Regions from separate parts of the Homo sapiens genome. Here regions 2 and 3 are each linked to region 1. Evidence: fine-mapped expression QTL. A gene starts in region 1. Each other region holds a variant in brackets. All regions are shown on one strand. Distances are between the middles of the regions.

What was found. PIP is the estimated chance that this variant, and not a neighbour inherited with it, causes the effect. A credible set is the group of variants that fine-mapping cannot tell apart.
Region 2: its variant is the best candidate, but not a certain one, in a credible set for the expression of TNFRSF11B in fetal neocortex (Walker 2019, PIP 0.55).
Region 3: its variant is the best candidate, but not a certain one, in a credible set for the expression of TNFRSF11B in lung (TOPMed, PIP 0.51).

The regions. Positions count from the first base shown.
Region 1 is chr8:118,949,582-118,953,828 of GRCh38, reverse strand. TNFRSF11B (TNF receptor superfamily member 11b) reads left to right here and starts at 1,944. Exons shown (of 5, transcript NM_002546.4): 1 at 1,944-2,037. The coding sequence starts at 2,008. It also overlaps a transcript of COLEC10 not described here.
Region 2 is chr8:118,985,434-118,989,680 of GRCh38, reverse strand. It overlaps a transcript of COLEC10 not described here. Among named protein-coding and RNA genes, the nearest start is that of TNFRSF11B, 36 kb to the right of the region's middle. The variant T/C (reference allele first, on the strand shown) is at 2,389.
Region 3 is chr8:118,996,344-119,000,590 of GRCh38, reverse strand. It overlaps a transcript of COLEC10 not described here. Among named protein-coding and RNA genes, the nearest start is that of TNFRSF11B, 47 kb to the right of the region's middle. The variant A/T (reference allele first, on the strand shown) is at 1,712.

The sequences.
Region 1 (4,247 bases):
GAAAAATTGGAGTTGGGGCTCAAATCTAGGTTACAAAGGCCAGTATCTTAGGTATTCCCCTAGAATAATCATAACTATAGGAAATATTTCCTATGGGCCAGGCATTGTGCTGAGTTATTTTACATGCATTACTTTATTTAATGCTCATAATTAGTGATTACCATCATTTATATAATTGTTTTTTAAACGCTCCCATTTGCTTTCTCTTACGTTTCTGCAATATCAGTGTGTTTTTATCTTATAGATGAGGCTCAGGGAGACGTAAACCTTTCCCAGGGTTAACACTGAAGGACTCAGTTATTGATTAGTTTTCTCCAAGGTCTGACACCCACATATTGGCATCATTTTATGTTCTGAGAAAAACACCTTCAAATAATATCCTAGACAAACATTACTCTAACAAAAACAATAATACTGCTATTTATATTGTGTTTCACTACTAACACTTGGATTGACTTGAGTCCCATGGCAAGTCTAAGTGTTGATATCTCAGGTTGCAGATGTCAAAACTACGATTCAAAATACAAGGAGTGATTTGGAGTCATACAATTTTGTCCACACTCACTGAGCTACATTTATTCACTAGTTCACTTAAGAAACCAGCATGCTGTTACATTCTGGCCCTTGAGGGACAAAGCTGAATGACACCCCGTCTTCTGTAATTTGCAGGATGGAACAGTCTGTGGATCCACTTTGAACTCGTGGTGGAAGGATGTCCCTTGGAAGGGGCAGATGCTCTGATCCTGGTAAGCCATCCTTGCTCCCCAGGGGTCCCCTCTCCTGATTCTTCACCTTCCTTCCCTTGAATCTGGTGAAAGGCAGTATTTGCCCTTCTCTGGAGACATATAACTTGAACACTTGGCCCTGATGGGGAAGCAGCTCTGCAGGGACTTTTTCAGCCATCTGTAAACAATTTCAGTGGCAACCCGCGAACTGTAATCCATGAATGGGACCACACTTTACAAGTCATCAAGTCTAACTTCTAGACCAGGGAATTAATGGGGGAGACAGCGAACCCTAGAGCAAAGTGCCAAACTTCTGTCGATAGCTTGAGGCTAGTGGAAAGACCTCGAGGAGGCTACTCCAGAAGTTCAGCGCGTAGGAAGCTCCGATACCAATAGCCCTTTGATGATGGTGGGGTTGGTGAAGGGAACAGTGCTCCGCAAGGTTATCCCTGCCCCAGGCAGTCCAATTTTCACTCTGCAGATTCTCTCTGGCTCTAACTACCCCAGATAACAAGGAGTGAATGCAGAATAGCACGGGCTTTAGGGCCAATCAGACATTAGTTAGAAAAATTCCTACTACATGGTTTATGTAAACTTGAAGATGAATGATTGCGAACTCCCCGAAAAGGGCTCAGACAATGCCATGCATAAAGAGGGGCCCTGTAATTTGAGGTTTCAGAACCCGAAGTGAAGGGGTCAGGCAGCCGGGTACGGCGGAAACTCACAGCTTTCGCCCAGCGAGAGGACAAAGGTCTGGGACACACTCCAACTGCGTCCGGATCTTGGCTGGATCGGACTCTCAGGGTGGAGGAGACACAAGCACAGCAGCTGCCCAGCGTGTGCCCAGCCCTCCCACCGCTGGTCCCGGCTGCCAGGAGGCTGGCCGCTGGCGGGAAGGGGCCGGGAAACCTCAGAGCCCCGCGGAGACAGCAGCCGCCTTGTTCCTCAGCCCGGTGGCTTTTTTTTCCCCTGCTCTCCCAGGGGCCAGACACCACCGCCCCACCCCTCACGCCCCACCTCCCTGGGGGATCCTTTCCGCCCCAGCCCTGAAAGCGTTAACCCTGGAGCTTTCTGCACACCCCCCGACCGCTCCCGCCCAAGCTTCCTAAAAAAGAAAGGTGCAAAGTTTGGTCCAGGATAGAAAAATGACTGATCAAAGGCAGGCGATACTTCCTGTTGCCGGGACGCTATATATAACGTGATGAGCGCACGGGCTGCGGAGACGCACCGGAGCGCTCGCCCAGCCGCCGCCTCCAAGCCCCTGAGGTTTCCGGGGACCACAATGAACAACTTGCTGTGCTGCGCGCTCGTGGTAAGTCCCTGGGCCAGCCGACGGGTGCCCGGCGCCTGGGGAGGCTGCTGCCACCTGGTCTCCCAACCTCCCAGCGGACCGGCGGGGAGAAGGCTCCACTCGCTCCCTCCCAGGAGAGGCTTGGGGTTAGGCTGGAGCAGGAAACCGCTTTCAAGTTATGCCATGCTTCCCCTAGGGTGTCCTTTTACGCTGCAAAGTTCCTGCTGACTTTATGGAAGACAGCAAGAGAGAGACAGACAGCGAGAGAGAGGGAGAGAGAGAGAGAGAGAGAAACTTGTTTGAAAGTTTTAGTCATTAACCTTCTGTCTTCATCTCAGAATATTAACGCCCTCATGTAGTCCATACTATCTTTGCTTAATGAACTTGAACTTTTATTATTAGTGGCAAAGAAGTGGTCCCTTAGATTCAGAGTAAGTTGGAAGAAGACGTTAGTCTTCTTAAAACCATTATAATTAGAATATGACATGATAGATTTTTCTAATGTAAATATTATGTGAAATTTTGAATAATTAGGAGAAAAGATCTCTCACACACACACTTCTTAACTGTGTAATGTTTTAATAAAATTTTATTGTTAAAATTATTTCACTTCTCAACTTCAATATACTGTGGAGAATATTGGCAGTATGTTATGTTCTAAAACATATCTAAAGAATTGAAGTTCACTAAATAGGGCTAAAAATTGTGTTTAAAATGTTATTTGGAAAAGAAAGGAATCTCTGTGACTTAGCTTTTTTTTTAAGCTTAGGTTTTGATCAAGTTAATAAGATTTGCATGTAGGTTTTTCTATGACCAATGACTTATTTTCTCTATGACACTAGAGTGTAGAGTACATCAAGATATGAATCAGACATTTATGCAAGGCTAGGAAAAGCCATATTTAAGCCACATATGTGTTTTGGATGTGTTTGAGTAAATGTTTGAACTTCAACCTCCAACCCACAAATAATGAATAGAAGGCTAGGTAGTCTTCTACTTAGTTCCTAGGATACAGAAACATAAATAAGTAAATAAATAGTAAAGACACTAAAGAACAGGTAAGTTGGATAGGAATCTACCCATAAGTATGTTAAAATATATATGTATGTATGTGTGTGTGTGTATAACTTCATCGCTAGAGATACTATGGAGTGCTTTTAAAAAAGTAAACCTTTATTAAAATATAACACATAGAGAATTGTGCAAGTGGTAAGTGCCTAATGCAGTTTTTCTAAGTGAGCACTTGTGAGCTAGCACACAGATCAAGAAATATATTATCGGCACCTCAAGAGCTTCCATCACTACTGTGTCTATGGCCAGAACAATCAGTATTCTGATTTGAACAACATAGATGAATTTTGCTTGTATTTGAACTTCCTATAAATGGAACTTATTCAATTTTTTGCATTTGACTTCTTTCACTGAAAGTTCTGTTGTGAGATTCATCTCTACTGTAGGATATAGAATAATTTGTCCGTTGTCATTGCTGTATGGTATTCCATTGTATGGACACACCACAATTGATTTAATCATCCTAGTTTTGGGCTAGTATAAATAATGCTGCCGTTAATATGGGGACATTTTTATTCTTCCTAGCCCTTTTTATTTTGTCAAAGATTTAATTAATAACAAACATACTAGCAATGAGTTAAATTTCAGGGTTTCCACTAAATAATATATGTTTCTATTTAGAAGTATCCATAAATTTAAATAGTAAAATATTTTTATATGTGGTCTGTACAGGAAGATAGACAAACATGTAGATAATACTAATTTTAGATGATACAGCATTATCAGAAGATAAGACTTCGTATATGTCTTGAACACAGTAAATACTTTATATAGGAAGAATTTTGCTTCCCCTTTCTTTAGCTTCTGAGACTTACTTTATTTTGAAAATGATTGCAAATGGACACTTTGTATTTACACATAGAGTCCAGATGCCCTTTTGTAAAACCAAGGTGCCACTGTAGGAACTAGAAGCACCACAGATATTTATTTCTTTATAATGGGCATTCCACTGGCACTAGGCATCAGGACAGTGTGAAAAGCAAGATAGACACTATTCCTTTCACCATGGACCCATAGTCTAATGGAGAAAGCAGATATTGGGCAAGTAATTGTGTATATAGAGTTGCAAAGAAAGAAACTACTGGGTGACTTGGGAATATAAAAGATTCTGCCATATAGCACCTTATAAGGGAAGCTGCTAGTGCAGTGTTATCATGTGG
Region 2 (4,247 bases), 36 kb before region 1:
CATTGATATAATCTTAAAATTTTCAAGACTATAATTTTATTTGTTCTTCCAAGATTTTGTCTTTGGTATTCTGCAGTTTGAGTAGGTTATGGGTAGGTAGGGGTGTGTGTGTGTGTGTGTGTGTGTGTGTGTGTGTGTGTGTGTGTATTTTGTCTGTCTTTTTTTTAAATCCTGCTTGGTGTTCTCTAAGCTTACTCAATCCATGATTTGGTGTATAACATTAATTTTGGGAAACACTTGAGCATGGTTTTTGCAAGTATTTCTTCTGCTCCATTCTTTCTTTCTGGTATTCCAACTATAGGCATTACACCTTTTGATATTGTCACATAGTTTGGATTTTCTCATCTGTTTGGTTCATTCTTTATTCTCTTTGCATTTCAGTTTAGAAAATTTCTATTATCTATGTTCAAGTTCACTGATCCTGTTCTCAGCTATGTCCACGCTACTAATGAGCCCATCAGAGGCATTCATTATTTCTGTTGCTTTTTGATTTCTAGCATTTACATTTGATTCTTTCTTAGAATATCTCTCTGCTTACATTACTCATCTGTTCTCGTCTGCTATCTTATTTTTCCATTAGTGCCTTTAGCACATTAATTATAGTTATTTTAAATCATTTGCCTGATAATTCTATATCTGTGTCATATCTGAGTCGCATTCTGATGACTGCTTTGTCCCTTCAGAATGTTTTTGTTCATTGGTTGGTTTTGTTTTGTTTTGTTTTGCCTTTTGGCATGCCTTATGATTTTGTTGAAAGGCAGGCATATTGTATTGGGTAATAAAAACTGAGCTAAATGGCCTGTAGTGTGAGGATTTATGTTAATCTGGCTAGGAGTTAGATTATGTTTAATATTTGTTGTAGCTATAGGTGTCAGAGGTTTCTAATTCCTCTAGAGTTTCTGTTGTTGGCTCCCCTGTTGACTTGGGCATTTTTTATGCAGTCCTCAGAGAGTCTGTGTCATGCAGCTTTTCCAGCTATAATCCACTGTTATTATACTTGTCAGTGTGATGGTAAGGTGTGGTGAAGAAGGAACCTCCTATAATCTTCCAATTAGATCTTGGATTTTTAGTCAGTCTGTGACTCAGGGCAGTGACCTTCACAGATGTTTCGCCAGTGATGCCACTTTTTCTCTCGTCTCCTACTCCTTTCCCTGGCTGCCTCATTCCCAGTCTATTTCCTTGAAGCCTTAACTCCTGTTGATGATGTCTTTCCCCTCTTAGGTGAAACAAGAGGGTTGGAAGGGACTAGAGTGGGAAGAATTCCCTGTTTCTGGCTGTGATCAGATTTCAGAATTGCTCTCTGCTAAAGACTTTCACATGGAGACTACGTCTTTGTTAGAGAGAGGAGTTGGACACATTTCTCAATACTTACTCTCCCCTACCCCTGTCTCCACCGCCAGAACCCTAAGGGGATCTTTCCCAGATCCTCATGATGAGAATCTGATAATATTCCTGGAAGCAAAACCCACAAACTTTTAGGAAACCCCTAAGATTGGGGTCCCTAATAGTTTCTTACTCATGCTAGTTCACAGTCAGCCTTCAACAACTTATCAAATTTACCATTTAATGGTTCCACCAGTCTATGGCTCCAGCAGCTTCTTTTCCAGGTGAACAGATCTCAGCTCGATCTCTCTGGATGCACCTGTCTCTCCAGATTTTGGGGTGGTTTGCCATGAGCCCCTGGTTCTCTGGTAGAACCAAACATGCGTTGATTTTTAGTTTGTTCAGCTTTTATTGTTCTAAGGACAGGAGTGATGACTTCCACACTCTACCTGTTGGTGCTGAAACCAAAGACTATTTATTATTTTTATAAAAAGTTTTATCAGTTTCTTTGCTTATCATGCTCCTGATAAAACACATCGAAGATTTTTAAATATTTTGGTGAAATATAACTTTAATAAGCTTTTCAGATAGGATTATGGGTAACAAATATCCTAAGTCCAGGAATGTCTACATCTATCTTTATTCTGCCATTCACATGAATGATAGTGGTCTAGACATAAAATTCAAGGCTCAGATTTTTTTTTCTCAACACTTTGAAGATATTGTTTAAATGTTTTCTTGAACTCAGTGTTTTTAATGAGGAGTATGTAATCAGTCTTTCTTTTTTATTTTTTGAGACAGATTATCACCCCGTTTCCCAGGCTGAACTGCAGTGGTGCGATCTCGGCTCACTGCAACCTCAGCCTCCTGGGTTCAAGAGATTTTCATGCCTCAGCCTCCCAAATAGCTGGGATTACAGCCCTGTACCACCACGTCTGGCTAATGTTTGTGTTTTCAGTAGAGACAGGGTTTTGCCCTGTTGGCCAGGCTGGTCTCAAACCCCTGGCCTCAAGTGATCTGCCCACCTCAGCCTCTCAAAGTTCTGGGATTACAGGTGTGAGCCAC[T/C]GCACCCAGCCTGGTTATCAATCATTCTTGCTCCTTTGTAAGTTGTCTGCTTTTCTCTCCAGAAACTTCTAGAATTTTCTCTTCACATGTGAAGTTCTAAATTTCCACTTACAATATATCGAGGTGTGGGTTTGTTTTTTTTGTTTTCACTCTCCAGGAACAGTTCCGCAAGCATTCCCAAGTGTCTCTCAGAGACGAGACAAAGTATTCGCCTCTCTTCCCCTGTTGCTTTTTCTTTTTTTAAAGGTGAAATTCACATAACATAAAATTAATCTTTTAAAAGTGCATAGTTCAATGGTACTTAGCATACTATATTGTGCAACCATACCCTCCATTTAGTTTTAAAACATTTCAACACCCTAAAAGAAATCCCCTTACCCATTAAAACATCTGTCCCCATTCCTTCCACATCCTATACCTGAAAACTACCAATTTTCTGTGTCTATAAATTTACCTGTTTTAGGTATTTCATGTACATTGAATCATACAATATGTATGGCCTTTTGTGACTGGCTTCTTTCACTTATCATAAGGCTTGGAAGGTTTATCCACAATGTAGAATGCATCAGTACTTCATTCACTTTAATGGAGAAATACTATTTTATTGAGTGTACATAAATATATTTTGTTTATCCATTCATCTGTTTATGGACATTTGAGTTGTTTCTACATTTTGGCTTAGATGTGGGTCTTCTTTTCATTCATCTTTTTGGCATCCAAACATTACTTTCAATTTTATAATCTATTTATTTTCCTTAGCACTGTAAAATAATTTTTATTGTTTCTTTGAATATTTTATTCCATCCATGCTCTTTATGTTCTTTTGGAATTCTAACAGGTTTATTTAGAATGGTTGGACGTTGGTTTTCTTCTGCATTTTCAATCACATTGTTCTCTTTTCCTGAGTACAGAAAATGTCTCAATTCAATTTATAACTCTTCAGTGAATGAACTTTTATGTTTATTCTGCTGCTCAGAGCATCAGATGCATTCTTAAATTTCAAGGGCCAGATTTTGAATTTCCAATCTCTACATCTGTTTCTTTTCTATAGATATAATATTGCTCCATATCTTTACTAGTTATAAACTTTTGTTAAAGTCTTAATTTGTCATTTCTAGTAACTTCATGGTATGTTTGTATTTGCTTTGGTTTTGTTTGGAGTTTTCATTGTATTAATATTGATATTCATCATTAAATTAGATTTCCCCAACTTTTGGTGATTCTTGACCATGGGATCATCATGACTAGAGAGTCTGTCACGGAGCCTTTCTATAAGTGCTGCATTTGTTTACTGCACTCTGGCTCCAAAGATGGTAGTGGAGTAGTTGCCTCTTCTGGTCACTGCTTGGCATAACTGATTGTTGAAAGACGGTGAAAACTTCAGATCGGAACTGCTATAGGTCTCTAGTCAAACCCCTGATATGCACTTCAGGGCCCTTACCTGACAATCTTATTTACCACCACCCAGCTTGGAGTAACTATGAGTCCTCTTCCACCTGGAATGTGTTTGGAGCTATGCTTTTGACTCTAGGTTTCTCTTCCTTCAGGATTTCCTAATAATTTCTAGACCACTGATTTTCTTTATCTCTTTCTTCAGGATTTCCTAATAATTTCTAGACCCCTTTATTTTCTAGAACTGTATGTTATATCTGGGGACCAAGAGAGGGAGAAGGAGGCTTGAGCACATGTTCAATCTGCCCTTTGGACCCAGTGAATGTATATCTTATAACATATGTGGAAAGGAGAGTACATCCTCATAAATCCCTGTTTAAATCACCTTTTTTTTTAAAATAACACATTTACTCAACAACTGCCCTAGGTAAGATTTACACCAGGCTCAGAAGCCGCTTTTTTCTCTC
Region 3 (4,247 bases), 47 kb before region 1:
TGCTTAGACTCCATGTTCAGATGTATAATCACTCCCTTGCAAGCACTCTTAACTTTACTTCTCTCCCCTCTCACTCTGCCATTATTGCCTGGTGACACTCAAGCCTGATTAAGCTCCTCTGTGCACTTGGTCTGTGCCTGTATCTGAGAGGCTCCAGGATGGTAGGAGAAAAGCACACAACTGTGCTGATGGGCACTTCATTTCAAAGTCATGACTACAAGTCTCAAATTGGCACTCCACAATGCCATATAATCCTATCACACTTCTCTAGGAAACTCATTTCCCCATTCTCCTCTGTACCACCTTTTTCTGATGTCCGACTTTTCTTCCCCTCTCACTCTCAGCTGAAAACATTGCAAGATAGTTCCCAGAAAAATAATCAGGAAAGAATGACCTCATCTTCTATGCTGGCTCCTCCTTTTATCTGAATCTGCACACTCTGCCTTTCTCCCTGTTATAATGGAATAGGTGTCCTGCTCTCATGTAAGACCATCCCCTTCACTGCTGCTTTAGGAAATCAGCACTATGCTCTTTCTTTTTTGCAACATTATTTATTATTTTCTTCCTCTCTATGAGATCATTTCTATTTGCATACAAATATGCCTTCATATCACCTATCATTTAAAAATACCCCATGCCTCTTCAGCTATCATTTCAATATCTGCTCTCTTTACAAAAAAACTCTTTAAAGAATTCTCTGTATTCATTGCTTCCACTTCCTGCCATTCTATTCTGTCTTAACCTCACTGTAATTGAACTGTTGTTAACTGAAATTACTTTTATCAGCATTGCCAACATTTTATATCTTCCCAAAGCAAATGGTCAATATTTTGTCCTACCTTGCACAAAATTTCAGTAGGATTCAACAAATCTGACCACTTCCTTCTCTTAAATAACTTCATTTTCTAGGCTTTTGAGACCATGTTTATGTGCTTCTTTTTTCCATCTTGAGGAAAACTCTTTCTCAGTCTCCTTTGCTGGCTCTTTTTTTTTTTTTATTGAGATGGAGTCTTGCTCTGTTGCCCAGGCTGGAGTGCAGTGGCATGATCTCGGCTCACTGCAACCTCCGCCTCCTGGGTTCAAGCAATTCTCCTGCCTCAGCCTCCTGAGTAGCTGGGATTACAGGCACCCACGACCATGCCTGGCTAATTTTTGTATTTTCAGTAGAGATGGGGTTTCACCATGTTGACCAGGCTGGTCTCAAACTCCTGACCTCAGGTGATCCATCCACCTCAGCCTCCCAAAGTGCTGGGATTACAGGCGATTGCTCTTCTTTATCAGACCTCTAACTCTAGGACATCCTAGGGCTTAGTCCTCAGCCATTTCCCATTCACTAGCTTCTCTTTTCCTAAGGCCATTTTATCCATTTTAATGGCTCCAAATGTCACTCACACACCATTCTTCCTAGTAATTAGAAATTAATAACAAATAAATAAATGAATGTATTTATAATAAATAAATGTGACCTTTTTAATAGTCTTAGCTATACCTTGCATATCTCATACTGTGTGACCTTGGACACATTTATTTGTCTCTATTGGTAACATTACTTTGTGCCTGGGGTTCTTATGAAAATTAGGTGATAATATACATAGAGTACTTAGCACAGTGCCTGGAGAATAGGGGGCATCCAATAAATGCTAACACAGTAAAAATCTTAGTTGTAATAGCGATGGGCTATTAATTAGAATGATGAAATCAAGTCAAGCAT[A/T]TCCAAGTTAATTTTTTTTTTTTTTTTTTTTTTGAGACGGAGTCTCGTTCTGTCACCCAGGCTGGAGTGCAGTGGCACGATCTTGGCTCACTGCAACCTCTGCCTCCCGGGTTCACGCTCTTCTCCTGCCTCAGCCTCTCAAATAGATGGGACTACAGGTGCCTGCCACCACGCCTGGCTAATTTTTTTTTTTTTTGTATTTTTCAGTAGAGACGGGGTTTCTCCATATTAGCCAGGATGGTCTTGATCTCCTGACCTCGTGATCCACCTGCCTCGGCCTCCAAACGAGCTGGGATTACAGGCGTGAGCCACCATGCCTGGCCAAGTTCTTAAATTTTTACCACAAGATCACATGCACAAGATGGTAAAAAATCACTTGGCTTTTATGAACTTCTATTCATGCGCTATCTCAGCAAAATGCCTAAGTGATCATGCTTTTTATTTGGTCAAGGTGATGGTTTCATGGCTCTACCATACATGTCCCAAATAACTCCATTTCCTCAACTTTAGATAGGAATAGAGCCAATTGAAGAAAAGCTTAGAATGAATGTTTCCTATTAAATTCATACATAGAGTTTAAGTTTATCCACATTGGGAATAATTGAAATATTTACTGTCTCTGGGAAATATGTCATGGGTAAAAGGCAAATTTAACTTCTTTCTTCTAAATTCACACCAATTTTAGAGGAATATAAAATCTTTATATTTTTTTCTCATTTCATTTTTAAGTCAACCTTGCGAGTTAGCAGAAAGAATATAATTTTTATTTTATAGATGAAAATACTGAGGTTAATTTGCTGTTCAAAATCACATCACTTTAATTTGATAAACTTGTGCCTGAAACCCAGGTCTTGATTGATCATATGTTGAACATTCCAGTGCTATTTTTCAATGCTGCCACCTTAATGGAGTACAAGATGAATTTATTTTATCATATGAAATAGAACAGGTTGTTTCCACTTGTTAACACTAATACCTTTATTTTACTGCTCTCTAAAACATTTCCCTTAACATCCCTCTAACTGAGAAGCTCCAGGTGCATGCCTTAATCTACTGTATATAACTTTACATGCCATGAAACACAGCCATTTAACTCTTGTGAATTTCTAGTAATGCAGAAGACACCCAAACACTCACCAGTTATTAAACATGACCAATAATGGAGGAAGAGCTATAGCAAAAGACCAGCCTACAAAGAGATTTCTTTATAAGGCAGTCAGTAGAGAATAGCCTTCAGAATCAGTTGCAGCTGGGTCTAGACTCTGTTTTCATCACAATTTTGCTATGTCACTTGAGGCATAAATACTTTGAATCTGTTTCTCATTGAAAAATGAGGACAGTAAAGTGTAATTCAAGGGTCAGCATGAGGATTAAAGTGCTTATTAAGTATTTGTGAACAAAACTAAACTCAAAATGAATTAAAGATGTAAAAGTAAGATATGAAACTTTAGAACTTCTATGAAAAAACACAGGGGAAAAGCTTCAAAACATTGGTCTTGAAAATGATTTATTGGATATGACATCAAAAGCACAGGTAACAAAAGCAAGAATAGACAAGTGGAACCACATCAAACTAAACAGCCTCTGCACAGGGAACGAAACAATCAACAGAGTGAAAATATGACCTAAGTAATTGTAGGAAATATTTGTAAACCATATATTTGGTAAGAGGTTATTATTAAATGTATATAAGGAACTCATGTGATTCAATAGCAAAACAAAACAAAAGCTGAGGAAAACAAAAATCTGATTTTAAAATGGGCAAAGGATTTAAATAGAAATATATCCAAAGAAGGTGATATGGTTTGGATGTGTGTCTTCTTCAAATCTCATGTTGAAATGTGATCTCCAGTGTGGGAGGTAGGCCTGGAAAGAGGCGTTTGTCATGGGGGTGGATCCCGCATGAATGGCTTGATGCCACCCCTGTGGTAATGAGTGAGTTCTCACTCTGATAGTTCACGTGAGAGCTGATTGTTTTAGAGTGTGGTACCTCCCCCAATCCTTACTCTTTCTCTTGCTCTGCTCTTGTCATGACACGCCTGCTCCCACTTTACCTACTACCATGAACCAAAGCTCCCTGAAGCCTCACTAGAAGCTGAGCAGATGCTGGTGCCATGTTTTCTGTACAGCCTGGAGAACCATGAGCCGATTAAACCTCTTTTCTCATAAATTACCCAGTTCCAGGTATTTCACTGTGGTAACACAAATAGACTAGCACAGAAAGCATACAGATAGATGGCCAACAGGTATATGAAAAGATGCCCAACGTCACTAATAATCAAATAAATGTAAACCGGAACCACAATGAGATATCACCTCACACCTTTTAGAATAGCTCTTATTTTTTAAAAAAAGACAAGTGTTGGCAAAGATGCAGAGAAATTAAAACTCTTATATACTGTTGGTGAGAATGTAAAATGATGTAGCCACTGTAAAAAGCAGAACGAGCGTTCCTCAAAAAATTAAAAATAGAACTATCATATGATCCAATGATCCTAGTTCTAGGTATTTATCCAAAATGATTTAAATCAAGATC